Linked DNA regions of Homo sapiens: region 1 is linked to region 2. Evidence: fine-mapped expression QTL. A gene starts in region 2. The other region holds a variant in brackets. All regions are shown on one strand. Distances are between the middles of the regions.

Region 1 (10,781 bases), 32 kb before region 2:
CTAAAGCAAAGCATGAAAAGATAAGAAAATATTTCTTCTAAATAAATTTGTCATAGGCACATAGACCAAAGGAATAGAATAGAGAACCCAGAAATAAACTCAAATACTTACAGCCAACTGATCTTCAACAAAGCAAACAAAAACACAGTGGGGAAAGGACACCCTTTTCAACAAATGGTGCTGGGATAATTGGCTAGCCACATGTATGAGAATGAAACTGGATCCTCATCTCTCACCTGATAGAAAAATCAACTCAAGTTGGATTAACGACTTAAACCTAAAACCTGAAACTATAAAAATTCTAGAAGACAACATTGGAAAAACCCTTCTCGACACTGGCTTAGGCCAGGATTTCATGATCAAAAACCCAAAAACAATTGCAATAAAAACAAAGATAAATAGCTGGGACCTAATTAAACTAAAGAGCTTTTGCACAGCAAAAGGAACAGTCAGCAGAGTAAACAGACAACACACAGAGTGGGAGAAAATCTTCACAATCTATACATCTGACAGTGGACTAATATCCAGAATCTCCAACCAACCCAAACAAATCAGTAAGAAAAGAACAATCCTGTCAAAAAGTGGGCTAAGGACATGAATAGACAATTCTCAAAAGAAGATATACACACGGCCAACAAACATATGAAAAAATACTCAACATCACTAAAGATTAGGGAAATGCAAATCAAAACCACAATGCGATACCACCTTACTCCTGCAAGAATGGTCATAATCAAAGAATCAAAAATGGTAGATGTTGGCATGGATGCAGTGAGCAGAAAACACTTCTACACTACTGGTGGGAATGTAAACTAGTACAGCCACTATGGAAAACAGTGTGGAGATTCCTTAAAGAGCTAAAAGTAGAACCACCATTTGATCCAGCAATCCCACTACTGGGTATCTACTCAGAGGAAAAGAAGTCATATTCGAAATAGATACTTGCACACACGTTTATAGCAGCACATTTCACAATCGCAAAATCGTGGAACCAACCCACATGCCCATCAATCAACAATTGGATAAAGAAACTGTGGTATGTGTGTGTGTGTGTGTGTGTGTGTGTATATATATATATACACACACACACACACACACACACACATATGATGGAATACTACTCAGCCATAAAAATGAATGAGTTAACAGCATTTGCAGTGACCTGGATGAGATTGGAGACTATTATTCTAAGTGAAGTAACTCAGGAATGGAAAACCAAACATCATATGTTCTCGCTGATATGTGATAGCTAAGCTATGAGGATGCAAAGGCATAAGAATGATACAATGGACTTTGGGGACTTGGGGGGAAGAGTGGGAGGGGGGCGAGGGATAAGAGACAACAAATACAGTGCAGTATATACTGCTCGGGTGATGGGTGCACCAATATCTCTCAATTCACCACTAAAAACTTATGTAACCAAATACCACCTGTACCGCAATAATTTATGGAAAAACAAAATTAAAATTAAAAAAACCTTACACTTGTATTATCACTATTTTGGCACATCTACAGATATTTTAAAATTTTAAAGTATTTTATACAGAATGATACACCAAATAACAATTGCTTTGGTCATGATTCTAATAATCCACTTTAATTTTTTTATTAGCTTGTGTATATTTTATTTTTTTGAGACACAGTCTCGCTCTGTTGCCCAGGCTGGAGTGCAGTGGCACAATCTTGGCTCACTGCAACCTCTGCCACCTGGGTTCAAGCGATTCTCTTGCCTCAGCCTCCCCAGTAGCTGGGATTACAGGTGCCCGCCACCACGCCAAGCTAATATTTGTATTTTAGTAGACATGGGGTTTCTCCGCGTTGCCCAGGCTGGTCTCGAACTCCTGAGCTCAGGCGATCCACCTGCCTCGGCCTGCCAAAGTTAGGATTACAGGCGTGAGCCACCATGCTTGGCCGCTCTTGTATATTTTTAATGCTAGATTTGTCACTGTTCTTACGTAGCTAAGTTGAAAAAAGAAATGCAAGTTAACTAAGCACCTGTACTCAGCCCTTGAAATCTTGGATCCAGAAGAACAGTCTATCAATTATATGATTAAAAAAAATAAGAACTATAATAACTTTTCCTAAACAACCACTTAAGATTTTTAAAAATCCATCATATTAGCTTTTAGCATATTGAGAACTTAAGGAGATGATAGGGAAATATTTTTAATATTATTAGATTATTTTGGCTATAGCAGATTTTCCACATGGAGAATGATTTTAAAAATATTAATTTTTATCTGGTCTATAAGACAGTAGTATTATTCAATACATATTAATATGATCGCTATAGATTTCTATATTCTTTTGGTTAAAAAACCCAGTCAAACAACAAAGGGCTGTCAACTTTTCACAGTCCCTTGTCTTTGACAGCCCTAAAAATTTTGCAGATATCAAAGATCTTTCATAGTGCCTTACTTCCTTCACATTTTAAATATAGGAAAACTGAGTGCCAGAGACAACACCAGAACAAGTCTCAAGTTCATCTTCCCCTATATACACCATTGCTCATTGGCAATGAATGTAATAACTTAAAAACTACTGCATATGTGTCTTTGACAGAGACATATACACACACACACATGAATATGTGTGTGTGTATATGTGTGTGTGTGTATATGTCTATATATTATGAAGTCAGTACCCTTGAAAGCAAACAAGTGAAAACTTTACACATTGTTCCCACCCAGCAACTGTAACAATCAGAAACAAAAATGTAATGAAACTCAACTACTGAAACTTGATTTTCTATAGTAAGACAGTAAACTTAATTCTTTAATAACAGAGCCAATCACTGGGTGTTTGCTTTACCAAGGAATACTTTTTCTCAGTAACTAAGATGAAAAGTCTTACTTATTCCATTTGGTAATATGTATGGTCCATTGTACCGAGCAGGTGAAAAGCAAGAACTGGTGTATGCATCAAGTAATTTCCCCTTGGTTATGGCTCCTTGGCATAAGGCGATTTCACTCACCCACACACAGCCTTGGACATGCATAGCCTTGCAGTTGACTTCTTAGAACTGCTACTTCTTATAATATTTTGAAATAATGCTATCAACCCTGCCTCATTATTTCATATCCACAACATGGGAAGAGCAGAATTTGTGTAGGCCACTAGACTATCATAGAGCATAATGTAAATGTCTTTTTTTTTCTTTTTAATTGAGACAGAATCTTGCTCTGTCACCCAGGCTTGAGTGCAGTGGCGCGATCACAGCTCACCGCAGCCTCCATCTCCCAGGCTCAAGTGCTCCTCCCGCCTCAGCCTCCTGAGTAGCTGGGACACAGGTGCATGCTGCAAAGCCTAGCTAGTTATTTTTTGATTTTTAGTATACATCAAGTCTCACTATGTTGCCCAGGCTGGTCTCAAACTTCTGGCCTCACGTGATGCTCCTGCCTTGGCCTCCCAAAGAGCTGGGATTACAGGTGTGAGCCACCATGCACAGCCTTACTATGTTTTTCTGACATTCAGTGAGGGTTGGCATTGAACTCAGGTACTATGGTTTCAAATTTAAACATATTTACTGTAAATCTGTGTGTGTGTGTACAAATTATATATATATGTGTATATATAAATTGTATATATGTATGAAACTCCATCTCTACTAAAATATACATCATATTTTGTATATGTTATACATGTAGAAACTGTCATTTGCAGCTCACAGGCCACTTTGGAGGCATCTTGGCTACCTGCCCGTGACTGCCCAAACTGCATGTGCTTTCTGCCAAGTAGAGCATCATTTTGAAATACTTGATATGAAAGTTTTGACTAGATTTCACCCATGCATGTGTATGACTAACAAAGACTACAATGGTTCTGACGAGTCCAACCACACCTGGGTGTCGGCTGCTACTGGATTCCCTGCGCAACTGAGACACAATTTAAATCTAGATTTATCAAGCTAGAGGAATCCTTAGAGAAAATTGGATCTAAACCCTCATTTTACAAAGGCAGATATGGGGATGCAAGGAGTTAAGTCATGTGTCGCTGGTCACCCAGGCTGGTGATGAAGCAATGGAAACAATGTGAGATTTGTTACCTTTTGGCCTGTTTGTATGTCCCAGTACATACTGAAAAGGATAGTGTTTGTAAACGAGAGGGGATATATGGACTTGGTGAAAAATTCATTACATTTTCTTTATATTAATTATGAAATGTCTAAGTAATGAACAGAAGATAAAGCATCAGGGGAGATATTACACATAAAAATGCAAAACTATAGACTTTTTTTTTTTTTTTTTTGGACAGAGTTTCACTTTCTTGCCCAGGCTGGAGTGGAGTGGCATGATCTTGGCTCACTGCAACTTCCGCCTCCTGGGTTCAAGCAATTCTCGTGCCTCAGCCTCCTGAGTAGCTGGGATTACGGACGCCCGGCACCTTGCCAAGCTGATTTTTTGTATTTTAGTAGAGACAGGGTTTCACCATGTTACCCAAGCTTGTCTTGAACTCCCGAGTTCAGGCAATCCACCCGTCTCTGCCTCCCAAAGTGCTAGGATTATAGGCGTGAGTCACAGAGCCCGGCCATTTTCTTAACGTGTTTTTATAACCTATTTTCTATTTGAAATTGTTATACACAATTCTTGGCCGAGACTTTATGATCTCCTCAAATTTTTGAAAAATCATTAAGGATCAATTTGTATGCCTAATTGAGTGATAAATTTAAAGCAGTGTTGTACAAGCATTCAAGAATTTACAGAAATTGGAATTATATTTGAAAACTAATTTTTATTTAACTTTCATTGATACATGTACTACTAAATTATCTTGGGAAGAGTTTTGAATTCAATCAAAATTGCCATATCGGCCAAGCATGGTGGCTCACGCCTGTAACCCCAGCACTTTGGGAGGCTAAGGCGGGCGGCTCACTTGAAGTCAGGAGTTCGAGATCAGCCTGGCCAACACGGTGAAACTCCGTCTCTACTAAAAATACAAAATTTAGCTGGGCGTGGTGGTGGGTACCTGTAATCCCAGCTACTCTGGAGGATGAAGCAGGAGAATTGCTTGCACCTGGGAGGTGGAGGCTGCCGTGAGGCGAGATGGCGCCACTGGACCACTCCAGCCTGGGCAACAGAGCATGACTCTGTCTCAAAAAAACAAAACAAAACAAAACAAAACAAAAAATTCCAATGAAGTATTTTAAAATAACAATGCCCTATTTTGCAGAAAGCACTTGAATTGTTAACAACAGTCATAGGCAGCCAGCTGAGATGCCTCCAAATTGGCCTGTCAGCTACAAATGGACACAGTAATCAGATACATGTGAAGTGAATGTTTGGGATGCTGCCTGGAGCTGAATCCACCAGGAGACCGCAGTGCCTATGCGCCTCCCTCCCACCTCTGCAGCAGGGCTGTGTGCGGCATTCTGCGCACCTGGAACATAAACTCCAGTTGTGCCACAGGCCGCTTGTCTGTGAGATCTGCAGGCCAGCTGCTATTGCTCAACCTTGCAATGGGAGCAACAAGTTCCAGGTGTTATTGCTGCCACTGACGACCGGGACGACCAAGCCAAGTTTGGGTCTTGGTGAAAAACAATTGGGGGGGCCCCCAGTGAGGGCTGAATGGTTAAGTTTCCTTATGAGGATTTTGTATTTGACAGAGGCAAAACCTAGTTGGCCCAGGTCTCTTCTGGTCCACAGGGCCAGTGATTTTTACTAACTTTCTCCATACCTTGCATGCCCCACACCTCCCTTCCCAGCCTGTGAGAACACAGAGGGATGCAGTCTATCCCACTCTGTCTGTATTAGTCCGTTTTCGCACTGCTAAGTTATAAAGTAAAGAGGTTTAATCGACTCACAGTTCCGCATGGCTGGGGAGGCCTCAGGAAACTGACAATCGTGGCAGAAGGCAAGAGGGCGGGAGACGACGCCTTCACAAGGCAGGAGAGAAGCAAGTCGGAGAACCAGGAAGCACCACACTTTAAAACCATCAGCTCTCGTGAGAGCTCACTAGCTATCACGAGAACAGCATGGGGGAAACCACCCCCATGCTCCAATCAACTCCACCTGGTCCCTCCCTTGACAAATCGAGATGAGATTTGGGTGAGGACACAGGCCCAAACCGTATCACTGTCCCAGTCTGCCCTTCAAGGAGCCCCAGAGGAAGCCCGGGCTGTGGGAGGCAGCCTGGAGGCTGGTATGCCTAGACCCTGCCCAGCTGCCCCAAAGCTGCGGCCCTGTGAAGGGCCTGAGATTTTACCCTGCTTGCAAGCTAATGACCTAGCCTGCCACAGCTTCCTGGATGCTGGCAGACTCCTGGGCCAAAGGCAAAGGACTGTATT[G/A]CTCTGGGAATGCCATTTGCCCCCCACCCCAAGTCCCCCAAGGAGGTGATGTGTGACAACCCAATTTATGATGTATCATCTGTATCACAGCTGAGGAACCCCAAGCTCAGGAAACCCCTCGAGTTATAAGATGGGCTGCTTCTCCAATCAACTCATCCAACCTTTGCCCTACAGGTAGATGATGATCTTTATTACCGTAGTCAGGAAACAAATCTGTCCTCTGCCTAGACAAGCATCCTTGAAGATGTCCAGAACTGCCACAGAGAATTGCCCAACGCACACCAGTCTAGCATCCCCTGTGCCACCTGGCTGGGAAACCCACTTTATCAACATAAGAGGGACAGAGTGCCCTAGGGAAAAAGAGAGGACTGATTTTCATGTGAGCTGAGCAACCTCCCCAAGTTGTGAAGGTTGAGGAGCCCAGCCACACTTCCCCAGGCTTGTAGACGGGGCCAGCATGCAGCTCGGTGTGGTCTGGAGCCTGCTGGTCACATCTGTCATATGTGAGGCTAAGCTGGCAAGTATTTTGTAAATTGTCACCAATAAACAAAAACTATGCTTCACTTTGTGAGACTAACTTCAATAATGACTGTGTGAGGTTTTATAGTGACTTTTTATAAATTTCTGAACTATTCATATTTTTCACGTACTCCTGGGTCACAGCCACAGAAAGACTGAGGAGCTCTTAACGCATTCCCCACAAGCTGAGCACGATTCAGACTCAGGGTAGTCAAAAACAGGTGACCTGTCAGCTCCTAACACCAAAGGGTTTCTGATCCCTATGGGAACATTAATAATTGACACAGAACAAGTAGAAGGCAGTGACACAGTGGTGTCCAGGCTCAGCAGGGTGGCCTGGTCCATGGCAGCAGAAGTGTGGGTCTCATAGGACAGAGCTGTTTCTCAATCCTACTTGTAAAGTCAAGAATTCGGGTGTCATAAGAGCGCAGGAGTTGGACAGACCTGGCTAAAACCCTGGCTCTAAGCCCTTCTGTTAATGCAACTTTCAGCAAGTTACTTCCATGGCTGGCAAGTGTGATTACAAGTGATACCGGGGTTTGCTGAGGAGGTAATCTAGGTCAAGCACCTTATCAATCACAAGGCCTGGTACATAAATGGATAAGCAAGAGCTCTAATTAAGATGAGTGACTGAGGAGCTCGATGTGTGAAGGAATACAGGTAGGATTCAGCCTTCCATTCACAATCAAACTCCCGAAAACTTGGCAGGGAAATTAGATGGAGCCCATGGTTTGGATCCAACCTGGACCTTATTTTTTTATAGTATTTCTAAAAATAGAGTCTCATTAATGTCCAATGGCTACTAAGTTTTGTCCTCTCAAAATTAAAATAGCACTTGCCATTATCCAGTAGGAACTACAGTCAGCATTTTGGTTAATATCCTCCCAGTCATCTTTTGATATTCTAGATGTGTATCTAGTTATGCATAAGTACATATATAAAGTGTTATATAAACAGGCTCATCCTGTATATCCTATTTTAAAACTGCTTTACCACTAAACAATTACTTCCTAAAATCTTAATACCTGTTATTTCTTGTAAACTTTGATTTACTCCGGAGAAATCGGTCTGAAACAATTAGCATCTCACCTCTTTACTATCAGGCATATCAAAGGTTATTACATTAACAAAAAAATACATCAAGTTGACCTGACTTCATTTATGTAAGAGGTAGAAAATCTGAGTAAAGTTTTTTTTTCATTAATTAAATCCTATTTTAATGTAAATCCTCTTATAATTCCTCGTTTCACTAAAGTAATCTTGGAATCACTAAAGTTTTGTGGAAGCACCACCTATCTGGGGGAAAAACTGCCTTTAAACACCTGCAAATTGGGTTGATAGTATCTGGTTAAGAGGTGGTATCAGTCATGTAAGAGTAAGATTGTGACCGTTTAGTCATATTTAATAACCCACTTACATAACCCTTGTTATTTAATTCAGATACGATGTTCAGCTTGTATTTCTTGATAATAACCCCCCTCCTCCAAACCAACACAGATGTACACACCCAATCAGCGTGCATGACTGCTGACTGGCACTCTTTCCAGTGACTGTTTATTGAGTGTCAGGAACACAACTGTGATTATACAAAATGAAGTGGACAAACGGTCTTGCACAAATGACGTACATTTCACAGTTAATCGTGAAGGTTAGAAAGGTTAACAAGTTCTATTAGTACTTTTCATAAGCAGTTTGATTTCTGAAAAATACAGTAACATAATTTTAGTAACTACTAAAATTTCTTTAAAACTCCCTATCAATCTGAAGAACAAACTAAAAACCTGTTTATTACATGAATGCTACTTATGAGAATTTAAAATATGGGTTCACTTCCTATTTTCCACAAGTCTTTGACTTGTTTATTTACTAAATTAACAGAACGTGGGATGCAGTTTTTTAAGTTAGCAACTTCCTTAGGGTTACTGGGAAGTAGAGTAATTATGAAAAAGGGAACACTTCAATTATTGTATAAAAGATTGCTTTGCATACTGATTACTTCTTGAACCCCAAAAAGTGCTATTTAGAGGCAAGGGCCCATTTTGTGCCCATTAAAAGAAATATACAGGTGAATGTCTGTCTCATCCCTCTAATCATATGTAATAAAATTATATCGCTGTCAATAACAGCAAAGATAATGATATATTAATTTTAACAGCAGTTAGAACCAGAAGGAAAAGGCTGTTATACAGAAAAACATACAAATATGTAGGTAGAAGTGAAAAACTGAAGAATGTGGAGTGTTTACTGTCCCGTTACTCACACAGACGTGCTGGATTCAACACCCACGCTGAATCTCCATTTATTCCACGGAGGTGGAGTTCACCATGGTTCGACTGCCCACCAGATCCCCAAATGTCAAAGTGAAACAAAACTCAGTGAATTCTAGATGACTGTTTTACTTCCCCTAAAGAAGTTATCTGTAAATAAGAAAAATCAACTGATAGGGGGAAAAAAAAAAGATCTGTCATTTGTCAACAGATGGACGAAGACAAGCTATTGACTCAAAGAGAACCTGCCGCGAGTCTTAGTCTTTGGAAGGTCAGACAGCTGCAGTGTTCGGTCACATGGAGATGGTGTCTTCATGTCTCAGAGGCCGCATTCTGTAGGCCAGACGTGTGCTCACCAACCTATACAAGGGTCAGGGCAGTCCCGCAGGTAAGTTTCGAATTGACCTTTGGTAACATCTATCAAGGTTGTGTATACGGTCAGCTGAAAGAAAAGTTATTTTTACTTTAAGGACGTTTTCAATTCAGAGATGTTCTGATATATATTAGCATTTCTATACTTGTAGAATTTGCTTTAGAAGTTATTTAATATTAAATAATATAACTTAATATATGCAAAGCATGTTATATAATGTATATATTTATATTAATATAGTATAATCATATAAAATTAGCTAAAGTCTCACCAAATAACTAAAGCAAACAACTTCAACAGGATCACTGTTTCAGGTAATGAATATAAACAGGCTCAGGAAAGAATCTCCAGCTCCTTATAGGAGCTTATTCCTGACAGCACATTGCTCCACCCCCAATGCTTTAAGACTGCCTTAACCCTCCTTGACGCACAGCTGGCAGTCCTGGGAGACCTGCCGGTGTCCTATGGAGTAAAAACCGTGGAGCTTTGGCTATCCCTATCCTTAAAGCATTTCCAATACAGTGGGGGAAACTGCAGGCACCCAGATCACAAGGCACACACCCAAACACAAGTCACGAGATTGTGACTTGCTCAAAGATGGTATAGGCAAAACGCAAGTATGGCAGGGCCCGTGAACTGAAGGCAGGCTTCCTGTGAGAGCCAGGGTGACCTGGATGCTAAAGGCCGGAGGGATTTGTCCTGGCAGGGTAAAGGCGGCATGTTTACTTTAGGGAGAGCTGTGGAGAAGGACCAAGAAAAGAAGGAACAAATGGGAAAATTAGGGGGGCATATTCAGAACGTTCAGGGAATGATTGTTAGCGAGTGGTGGGATGATAGGAAACTTTTTGCATTTTTTTAAAACTACAGTGTAGGGAAAAGATAAACAGATGTAGTAAAGTTTAAGGGAAACCCGAACCCACCAAGACACAGAGCTCTGTCTGAAAATGGACTGCAGACTTTGTTTTGTTGACATTTAGGTGTTAGTTATATAGTGTGAGATTTTTAATAGATACCAATAAGAGTAAAATGCTAGCCTTAATTCAAATGCTATGTAAATAAAGCTATAAACAATATTCTGACCTATCAAGCCTCAGTGATCAATTTCTTTCTTGTATTCCAAAATACAGTTTTAGCCACACAAAAACATTTTTTAATAAAAAATCAGTCCTAAGCTGAACACACCTTTTGTGCTCAAACTGATCAAAGATAACAGAGAAAGATAAAACATAGGGCCAAATTCTTTCCCTAAAAGGCAAATATACATATAACATTTAAAATACCTTGTTGAGGACAGGTTTTGTTGACAGGACATCATACATGGTTTCAAATGAGATATTCT
Region 2 (11,404 bases):
GAGCTTGAAAATGTTTTCACTTGTCTTCTGGGCTTTGATGGGATGGCATCCTATTAAGCTACTGATATTTAGGTCAAAGGAATGTGAATAAACCCTCCATGAGAGGAAGGACCTCATCTATCTCATTGGCTGACGCATTCCCAGCGTTTAGGAGTCTGGCACATAGTAGGCAAGCAGTATTTGTTGAATAAGTGAATGGATTACACCTGTGTGTTCCCTCTTTGGGAGAAGTAGGGAAAAGCAGATGAAGTGCAATAAATTCCTAGGCCAGATGGGGTCTATGAGATTTCTGGCAACTGCGTGAAAATCATTGCTAAAGCTGATTCAATAGCTAATGTCAACAATGTTGACATACGCTGTTAACTAGTATGAGAAGCTGATGCATAAAAATGAGTTTACAAGTTTACTTTGGCAATTAATTACTAAGCCATTACGTTTCATCTTCGCACATCTTATGAAGTGGGTCAGATTTATTACGCAGAGCAGCCATCTCTCCCCTCTAGTTCCTTTCCTGCCAATCACACTTAGCCTACCGCAAGCTGTTTTCTGCCCCCAACACTGCTCCAGTCGAGGTGACCAATGACCTCCAGTTGCCCAACATCATAATACCACTGACATCTCAATAATATTCAACATAGTTAACCTGTCCCAGTCTCTTCCCTGAGCTTCCTGTTCCACTTACTCTCCTATTTTTTTGTTTTTGTTTTCTGTGACGAAGTTTCGCTCATTGTCCAGGCTGGAGTGCAATGGCAGGATCTTGGCTCACTGCAACCTCTCCCTCCCAGGTTCAAGCAATTCTCCCGCCTCAGCCTCCTGAGTAGCTGGGACTACAGGCGTGAGCCACTATGCCCAGCTAATTTTTGTATTTTTAGTAGAGACAGGGTTTCTCCATGTTGGCCAGGCTAGTCTCAAACTCCTGACCTCACGTGATCTGCCCACCTTGGCCTCCCAAAGTGCTGGGATTACAGGCATGAGCCACCGCGCCCGGCCTGTCCTGTTTTAACTTTGGCAATTTCTCCTCTTCTTGACACATACATGTGCAAGTTACTTAGCCTTTGCCTAGTTCTCTTTTCTTCTCTTTCTCTATCCTATTTCTAGGTAAGTTCATCTGCTCCAAGGGCTTCAAATATAATATCATTATGCCAGTGACTCTCAGTGTCTCTCTTCTGAGTGCCAGTCCGAGTGGCCTGCTGGATGCCTCTCTGCCACCTGAAATTTAACATACACCCCAAATGAAAACGATCCTCATTCTTTAGCCCCCAAGCTTTCCCCTCCCCATGTTTCCTGGAACGGATGCCACCATTCGCCCAGCGAAGCACTTCAGCAATGTGCAGGTCACGCTGACACCTCACTCCCTCATCCTCACCCAACGATTCCTTCAGCTCATTCGCCCTCCTGATTTTTTTCTAGAACATCTACTTCTCTCCCTCACCCCTGGCGCCACCATCCTTCAACGCACCCTGTTTTCTTTTCTGGACTAGTCTCCTCATATCTACCCTTGCTGACCTCCAATCCAGACTCATCTTTTTAAAGTGAAAATGTTATCTTGTCTAAAACCATCTAATGGCCTCCCATTGGCTGGTTCCAGATCCTCCCATTTTTTAGGATAAATTTCTGAATCCTTAATAAGAGTCTACAGAACCCTGGATGATGTCATCTGGCGCTATCTCTCCAGACATTTCTTGTGCCACTGTCTTCACCATCATCTCTTAATAGACTCCTAAAAAATTCAATAATGAAGAATAACTCAGGAGGACCTTCACATAGGAATATTGTGAAAAGCCTCAAAAACAAACACACAAAAAATCCTTACAGATGTTCTAAATCAAATGACTTGTTTCCAATTTAAAGCTGCTTCTCATTATTCATATTTATTGAAAGTACTTTTGAAATATCTTTTGTTACCATGAGGCTATAGTTTATCATATAATGACTCCAGTTGAAAAACTGCTTATTCTTCTCAGAGAATGAAGTCACTAAACTTCTGTAAGGTTCTAAAGGTCCTTCAGTGCATGGATCCCAGGATTTTCCAGGCCAGTAAAAAAAAATTAATGAGGCCTTGGCACAGGAGGGTCCAAATTTTTATTCTGCCAAATGGAGATGTTAAAACAAAACAAATTCCATGCACATAACATCTACCTCTGCCGTTATTTTTAAGAACACGTTTGCAACAATGAAAACTTGAAGTCCATACAATCAGAGTAAAGATTAACATTCTAAATTAATAATTTTAGTTTTGCATTCTTATTTTTCCAGTTTCATTGAAAACCTGTGAAAACAGCTTCCCAAAGTGACACCAGTGGCCAGACTAGACTTTGATAATCGCTGTTCTAGATAAGAACTATTATATCCATTGAGAGGTTGTTAATTCTTCTTCTGAAAATAGCTATCAAAATACTTTTGCTAGAATAAATAAAGCTATTGAGAAAGAAGAAAAAACAGCCTCCAACACCTGAAACTGCTCTGAGTCCCACAGCTATCTCTCAATATTATTACAAGCCGATCTGACACTCACAGCCAGGTAAGCTCTGTTTTCCTCCTGGACATCAACAATCCCACAGATACCTACGTCGGATAAGATTATTCTGAGACATGACACACCAAGACAAAGCAATGCCACTTGAAGATTTTCTCTAAGAACAGACAAAAACAAGGGCACCTGCAACGCACAAAACACCAAACATCCCCTTCTCGTGCTAAACAGAATGGCTGTTCCTTCTTTACTCAGTCAGAATTGCCCCACCTTCTAACAGCATTCTATCTACAGCAAAGCCCGGTTCCTCAGTCTTACCCCAAATCATGCAACCGAAGTTCAAATTCTGTAATGGGTTTTTTTCTATAACCTACCGTCCGTCGCTCATGGTGTGTGGTCTCCTTTGCCTCAAAGAACACTAAACCCAATTTGTTCAGCTTATGGTGTGTTCCTGGTGGTCTTTCAATGAAGGGCCCTGACAGTATCAAAGTATCAAAGTCTCTCCCAATTCCCATAAAACCAACTACCGTCAAGCAAATTAATTCCCTACCCACAATGGAGCAATTTTATTTTAAGGCCTTTAATCGTGTCCACATACATGTTCTGTGTATTTTCCTATTACAGGAAAAACTGTATATACTATTCTGGATTCTACTTTTATCTGCTGAACATTATATCAATTTTAATGGCTAAATCATATCCCACCATGATTTTAAAGAATTTCTCCTTACAGGTATAAAAGAAGACAATGCACATCTTGCTTCCACTTTCAATAACCTACCTAAACTATTCAAGACCATCACCATCTAGCCTCAGGCCAGATGCGCCAGGTTCCTACTTATCCGATTCTGTTGGCAAAGACAAACGCAGTCTGATTGCTTTATAAAGAAATGAATTATGAAAGAGTACTGGGCGTCAAGAGGCTCGGACGTTACGCATGTTCAGTAAACAACAGTGTAACCTCTGGCTAAATATTTTCTCACTCTAGGTCTACTTCCTCTTCTGTAAAATGAAAGAGTCACGCTCGTCCCTCACTGTCTCTTGCAGTTAGGAAGTCCGTAGCCCTGTGACTTGCTCGTGGGAAAGAGCCACGGGACAGGCGATCCCATGACTTGGGTGCAAAAGGCCACAGGGGGCCCTTTGGGGCCTGCTCTGGGCTGCTCGCACCGCCCAAGCTTGGGACCACTCAGCGTTTCCCACGGCCCTGCAGTATCCTGGGCTGAACTCCTGAACTTCTTCGGGAGAAAGCACCTGACCATCAGGCAGTCTGTCCTTGATTGAGTAATGCACACAGGTCCACCGGAACATTTTATTTAAACACTTCAAAATGCAAGGGCCTGGAACTGGTTATTCAAGTACACTCACTCAAATCTAAGAATGTGCGAATCACACCCAGGTATCCTGCAGAGACTAGGATTTCCTTTAAAGGAGTTCTAGTTGCAGGTAGCACCGAATCTACCGAGGACGGGGTTCGCCAGCCCGCTCTGCACCCACACCCCTGTGCACGAAACCACAGACCCCCGTAAAGAAGCTGCCCAGCACGAGGTGTTCCTTGTACCCGCTCGCGCCGCCACACCTGCGCCTCCATCCGCGCCCGCACCTGCACGCCCCTCTCTGCGCCTCGGCTCAAGCTCACTCACCGGCGGCGCGTGCTGCGCGACGGCACAGCTGACGGCGGCAGCCAGGAGGACTAAGGCGACGCAACTCCGGCCCGGCATCGCTCTAGCAGCCAACGCCACTCCCCGGACTCCAGCAGAGGCAAAGAAGAGCCGGCTGGGCCGGGGGCAGGCCACGCCCCCTCCGCCGCGTGACCCGCGACCTGGGACCGCACCATTCCAGGCAGTAGGGGGAACGCTCGGAGGAGGCGGGACTGGGAGGAGAGGACGGGGCTTTTCAGTGCCACGAAAAGGGTGGCGTAGAGAAAGAGAGAGAGCCTTCCAGGCTACCTGCAGAAGGAGAGTCGCGATCGCCTTTGGCGCGTGGCGTGATCCATCCCCCTCCCCCACCGCGGGCAATAGTCGGACCGAGCCGGAGCCCCGCCCCGTAGGTGGGGCCGGGAGCTTCACCCGTGGCGCCTCGATGGGGCGCCTCTAGCAGGCGGGTGCAGCCTGTCCCGCGTACCCAGGCGTCCTCGGTACCCACGAAACGGATCCAAAGAGTCTCAACACTAATGTAACATCCCACCCTGACCCATCTTTGCCCTCTGAGAAAAGCGGCCCGAAATGAGTTGAGTTATTCATCCCCACCGCGGAGTCAGGGACAAGGAGCAGTTGAGTGGCCGAGGAGTGAGAGAGAATCGAATCCACTCGGGTCCTCCAAGCTGTTGGTTACCCACTTGGGCTTTCACAGCAAAGCTGCCAAATCCCAGAATTGAGGCCTCGGTGAAAAGCGCGCTGAGACTTGGGTAGGAGGCCCGGTGGGACCCGCGAGCTTTCTCTCCCAGCCCGATGCAGCAGTTCATTAAGCGGCTGTGTTTCCTCCTAACTGGCGAAGGACTCAGGTGGGCGGAGCAGAGCTCAGCTTGGGAGGAGGCGGACGCGAGTAGCTCGGCAGGGGGACTCGCTTGGCTTTCGTGCCATCCGTGGACACAGTCGCGCGGGTAGGTGACCGGGTTGGATTTCAAAGTCCAGCAGGAAATCCTGCCCTCTGGGTTGCACTTCCTGGATGAGCCTCTGACGTCTCAAGCAGCATTGTTTTAATGCTTTGATGAAGCTCAGCACGCTGCCGAAATCTCGGCAGTATTTTTTCTTTTCTTTTTGCATGTGAGAGAAAGGACAACAAATTGCAGTTTTATCCATTTGTATTATTTCTTTAGAAAACTCAACACTCTTTTTGTTGGAGGTGGGGAAATGAGAAGGTGATGTTTTGTTTTGCTTTTTTTCCTATTTTTTTTTTTTAAAGGAGGAGAAGATGACAGTGTTCTCCCTAAGGATGAAGTTTGACTTTTGAAACATATCACATGCTTAAAGCACATTTGAGCTCCTGCATGAACAGTAAGCTAGCAGATGGTAGAAATATTCTTTATTAATTCAAAAAATATTTACTGCGGACCTACAATGTGCCAAGCATGTCTCCTGACACTGGGGATAAGCAGTGAACAACAACAAAAAGACAAACTTCTTCCACCCTGAGGCGTATGTTCTCGGTGAGAAATGGGCAATAAACATAATACCTAAGAAAATTATACGGGATGTTAGTGACAAATGCAGTGGAGGAAAAGGGAGGCCAGGGGCATCAAGTGTGGAGATCAGAAGTGGTAGAGTTACAATTTTAAATAAGAGGGACAGATAGACATGATTAAGGAGGTGAAGTTTGAGCAGACAGTTGAGGGAGACCAGGAAGCTAGTTTTGTGTGTGCCCAAGTAAGAGTATTCTAGGCAGAGACAGCAGCTGTTAAAAGGCTTTAAATGGAGAATGTGCCTGGCATGTTCAATTACAGCAGACGTGTGTGGGTCTGGCACAGAAAGAACAAGGGGAAAAGAAGAAAGAAGTATTAATAGACAAAGTATTTAGTTAAGGAGAGCAGGGCAAATTCTGTAAGGCATTCAGAGCCATTTCACTCCGGAAAAAAAATGTGTAATATTGAATATACGTGTTAAATGTTGAATCTATGGAATTACCTTGGAGCTTAAAATGAGTGTGCGAAGAAGAGGATTCCCATCTTTTAGTTGTTATTACTAAATCAAATAGCTACTTGATTGGAAGATCATTCATCTTCAGTACTCTTGAGAGCGATTTAAACATGTCACCAAGCATATTTTTTTCCCTACTGGAGGATGTTAATTGGTGATTAGGTAGTCTAGCAAAATCAGATTCTTTATGGAAAAAATTTGTCAATTGACATACTATTCTTAGGCACCACTTTCGCAGAACTATGCGTCTAACTTTCAAAGGTCTATTATATATTATTAATACTCTTTTCAGATAAAATATAAATCTAGTTCCCTAAAATTAAACCATTTCATGCATGTCTTTTTTTTCTTACACATATATCTTTATTTTGCCTACACCATTCTTTAATACTAGAAATGTACAGAAAGTCAAGGCAAGGTGTGTGTAGGAGACTTTGCAGTGGTTTTTGGCATACTGATCTGTTCATAGAAAATGGTATTTAAATGTGCAAATGCATGATTATGTCCACGGAAAGGGTGGTTCATACTGCACAAAAGCATCAAGTTTAAGACTTGGATAACCTGTTTCGTGTGCAAGAGTCGGGATATGTAATCAGATTGTTTATGGAATAGCTGAAGTTCTTGGCAAGCTGTGGACTTCCTCATCTCCTACCTAACATTCCTAGGTTCCTGAGGTGGAGCCTTGATTTAAAAGGGTTGCAACTTAGCCACCCCACCCTAAATGAAACCTATCATGTATAACATCACATTACCTGGAACAGGTTTGACTTGATTTAGTAAAACCGAATATACAAAAACGTGTACTAAAAGGTCAAGAGATAGAGAAATAATGTTTCAGTTTGAGAAATAAACATTTTTTTAACTTTAAATATTGACTTTTTTATGAATAAGGAAGCTTTTTATTTTACAGGTCTTTGTGGGAAGAAACAAATCACAAAAGCAATTAAGAGAGCTCAAACAATGGGTAAGAAAGAGCACCTCAACAACTGTATTGAGCTAGCTGAAATTTTGCTCATTATGCTTTGTCAAGAACTTTAATTATCTCTTTACAGGGTTTATGCCAGTTACATACAAGGATCCTGCATATTTCAGGGACCCTAAAGTTTATAACATCAGATATCCGGAATAAATTCCATCACATTACCACCAGTAAACTTATTTTATAGTAAGTGGTTGTATGACGCCAATACTGACTCAAACCAACCTTTGGATAGAAAAGTGTTTCAGGAGTGAGGTAAAGAATGACACTTCCCCTTCATACCAATCAGTGTTCATTAAGCAGATCGCTTATTTAAAATGTTAACACTCATCACATTTTACATATGTTGAATGAAAGTGGTTCTGGGTGATAGTCATTTATATCTGGTCCACAAATAGCTCATACAATGTAGTACACCATTCAACTGAATGGAGTTAAAACTGCTCAGAATGGTTTTCTAACTAGCAAATGTAAGTATGCCTGGTTAAGAGATCTTCCCTTTGTAGGAATGTTACACTGGGATGCATAGTGATGCTGTCACAGCAGGACAAAACATTCCTAGACAACTCTATCCTCAAACCAGTAGTGTCTTTTACATAAAAAGATGATTTACACCTAATAGACAGTGAATGTGATAGACATGTATGTATATATGTATCAGTTCTGAGTTCCACCAGCCTATCCCAAACACACTGGATTACCAGGCTTGTACTGTACTCAAAATTAAGGATTTGCTAAATTTCGTGCAAAGGACTCTAAACTAGGGGAGAGATTATTGTTTGTGTTGCGTTATAGTTGTGTAATAATTAAGGCTGCCAGATTTAGCAAGTACAAATGTAGGACAAATTTAAATTTTAGATCATGTTTTGCAAAGGTACTGCGTGAGATCCAGCATTTTATCTGGCAACACTAGCTGTAATGTACTTCTAAAAAATTATCACCTAAGGATAATTTTAATGACTCAGATAAATTTCATATAAATTTCTTTCCACATTGTGAAAATAAGGCTATTCTAGCTTTTCTAATACTTTTTTTTTTTTTTTAATAGAGATGGGTCTCACTGTGTTGCCCAGGCTGGTCTCTAACTCCTGGCCTCAATCATTCCTGCCTTGTCTTCCCTAAGTGCTGGGATTACAGCTGTGAGCCACTGTGCCTGGCCTCACTTTTCCAATTCTAAAGAATGTGTGTAAGCCTTTCCCTCAACAACTTATTGAAAGGCGAAAAAAGGTTTGGAAATAAAAGGATCTGATGTTTGAAAAAGTACTTTGTAAAATAAATGCACTAAGACTTATCTGTGGATTACTGCAAAGAGGTGAATATAGTAAAAACAAATGAACTTACCTGTATTACTGCAAGTAGCTCAACCTAGTAAAAACAATGGAAATGTTTGACTTTACCCATCAGCCAAATTAAAAAAATCTCCTTTTAAGGTTAAAAGGATCAAAATGTAGGTGACCGTGAATATTCACCAAAACCTTCATCTTTTCAATCTCTTCATCTGTTTCTGGGCTGCTCATTTTGGATGCTTTTTTATTGGTTACTACTATCAGTATCTGTTTTAGATGGTTTGTCTTGTGTGTCTAACAGCCGTGAACACTCTTTTTTTTTTTTTTTTTTCTCCTGAGTCGAAGTATTCCTCTGTAGCCCAGGCTGGAGTGCAGTGGCAGGATCTCAGCTCACTGCAAGCTCCGCCTTCTGGGTTCACACCATTCTCCTGCCTCAGCCTCCCAAGCAGCTGGGACTACAGGCACCTGCCACCACGCCGGGCTAATTTTTTGTATTTTAATAGAGACAGGGTTTCACCATGTTAGCCAGGATGGTCTCTGTCTCCTGACCTCCTGATCCGCCCACCTTGGCCTCCCAAAGTGCTGGGATTATAGTCGTGAGCCACCGCGCCCAGCCAATTTTTTTGTATTAGAGATGGGGTTTCACTGTGTTAGCCAGGATGGTCTCGATCTCCTGACCTCGTGATCCGTCCGCCGTCATCTCTTGAACTGCCATCTGTCAGCTAAGTCTAAGGTTTTATGCTTAACCATTTGTGGTGTACTAGCTGGACTAGCTTCAGGAATGTCAGTGTTTTCTACCATTAAGGTCAGATTGTCTACTACATCGAGATGGTGGTGGTTGTTAGAGCTACCTTTAGAAACATGTCTGTTTTTTTAAAGACATAACACATGCATGAAGAATTCAGAATCTGGAAAAAAGGTCCATAATGTTTGACAAAGAAAAATGTTCTCCTGAGGGTCTTTTTTGGATGCTCTTCTCTCGTTCTGCTGGAATCTGGGCTCATCTCCTTTTTTCAATTTCTCGTTTTAATCTGTTTACATCCTTTACTAGTTTATCTACTGCTTGTTCACTGTCTTCCACTTTTTTGCATATACTCTTTAATTTCTCTTACAATGAAGCATACATTTCATTTATCTTATGTACCTCCTTTAAGGATCCATCTTCTTCAAAAAATTTAGAGCTGTGTGTTTGTACTGCTCGGCTAAAACCAGTGGACATACAGGAACCTGATACAGTTTTATAACCTAGTTGTTCAGACATGCCCAGATTGGCAACCACTGAAGGTACCCTGTGAAAAAGTCCTTTTCGAGGTTTATATAAGGCATGTTCCAGTCGATGAGTAGAGCGGCTTTCTGTTATTATACTTGGTGTTCATAGCAGAAAAACCAGGTCTTGGTTTGAAAAATGCTCCTGCAAGTTTTTGTGAAGCAGCCTCTCTCTAAATGTCATGATCTGATCTGAATGACGATGGAATTTGTAACAACCTACCACATTTTTTGTGAATTTGATAATATTTTCCTCAGTGCCTGCTTATTTACTTCACCTGAAGAATTATAAAAACTAAAAAACTGATAGCATGGAATATATTTCTGAATGTCAATTGTATAAACAACTTCAGCATCATCTATTTGGGAATCAGTAATGCTATTCTTTTTTTTTTTTTTTTGAGATGGAGTCTAGCTCTGTCACCCAAGTTGGAGTGAGGTGGCCCGATCTTGGCTCACTGCAACCTCTGCCTCCCGGATTCAAGCAATTTTCCTGCCTCAGCCTCCCAAGTAGCTGGGATTACAGGCGCCCACCACCATGCCCAGCTAATTTTTTGTATTTTTAGTAGAGACGAGGTTTCACCATGTCAGCCAGGCTGGTCTCGAACTCCTGACCTCAGGTGATCCACCCGCCTCAGCCTCCCAAAGTGCTGGGGTTACAGGCGTGAGCCACCATGCTTGGCCTTGTCTTCTCCCTTCTAATATGAAAGAGGAAGCTAGGAATCCCCATTGCTGCTGGCATGCATGCTATAAACCTGAAGGGAGCCACCTAAGATGAAATTGATACTGTGGACTACACAGTAGAAAGATGGAAAGAAACTGGGTCATTGATGACATTGTCAAGATGCTAGATCAACCAACCACAGATCCTGTCCAACAACTGGACTCTTGATTTACATCAGCCACTACTCTGTTATTGAATCTTGGACAAGTTGGTTTGCTTACAAGTTAAATTATTGTATCTGAGAGCATCCTAACTGATACACACATGAAAATAGACATTTCTCCTTTGTTGAGAAGGATGTACAACAAATCTATGAACTTTAAGTTTTAGTACCTTCACTTGCTCATGCCCCTTCCCAACCTTTTACTAAATTTTATGCTTGTAATTTTGTATTCTTTTCCTTAAGGAGGACCACTTAAATTGCATAAGATTCAGGTGTCACCAAACCTGGATCTAGCATCAGATGTTGTTGGAAGAAAATGTCCACCTTTCTCTGCCGTCTCCTCCATTCATGTCTCCCTAGGGAAGGAGAGATGTATGATGTATCTAATCAGTAAATAGTTGAAAAGGTCACAGAACGTGCGTGGCCTGGCCTCTCTTCTGGCGCTTTCATTCAGATCTGCCTCCCCACAGTAGTAGATATGCCTGCCCACACTGGTAATTCTACTGCAGCAAGCCTTGAATGACAACAGTGGACGTGAAAGTAGTTGCTGCCTTTGACCACATCTTCCCAAAGTGGCACGTCACCAACAGACTTTAAAATCATGACGTTATAACGTAATGGCTGTGAAGATTTGGAAGAAAGCACTCTAAAATGAGAGCTCTGAGAGATGTAGAGAGAAGGCAGTCAAGGAATAGCGCCTATAAGCACCTCCTGCACATCCGGTCCCTGCGCCTCCATCCTCACCCTGCCCTCAGCTCACTCCCCTCCTGTTAGAAATTGGCTGTGCCCCTGAAAAGTCATTTGCATTTGCCTAAAGACTGAGTACACAAGCTCATTCCAAAGTAGAAGGTGTTGAAGTTCCATTTTGGCCTCAGGTCAAA

Evidence for each region. PIP is the estimated chance that this variant, and not a neighbour inherited with it, causes the effect.
Region 1: its variant is fine-mapped to the expression of ASAH1 in whole blood (INTERVAL, PIP above 0.99). The same link has a PIP of 0.9 or more in blood mononuclear cells.

What each region holds. Positions count from the first base shown.
Region 1 is chr8:18,048,113-18,058,893 of GRCh38, forward strand. ASAH1 (N-acylsphingosine amidohydrolase 1) reads right to left here. Exons shown (of 14, transcript NM_177924.5): 13 at 10,723-10,779; 14 at 7,880-9,511. The coding sequence ends at 9,422. Among named protein-coding and RNA genes, the nearest start is that of ASAH1, 31 kb to the right of the region's middle. RefSeq lists an enhancer at 5,504-6,077. The variant G/A (reference allele first, on the strand shown) is at 6,284.
Region 2 is chr8:18,079,868-18,091,271 of GRCh38, forward strand. It overlaps ASAH1 (N-acylsphingosine amidohydrolase 1), which reads right to left and starts at 4,240. Exons shown (of 14, transcript NM_177924.5): 1 at 4,114-4,240. The coding sequence starts at 4,191. It overlaps ASAH1-AS1 (ASAH1 antisense RNA 1), which reads left to right and starts at 5,001. Exons shown (of 5, transcript NR_125429.1): 1 at 5,001-5,072; 2 at 5,375-5,618; 3 at 7,016-7,069; 4 at 7,158-7,270. It also overlaps the pseudogene MRPS18CP3 and the pseudogene ABRAXAS1P2. RefSeq lists enhancers at 3,697-3,806, 4,607-4,886, 4,687-5,222 and a silencer at 4,157-4,356.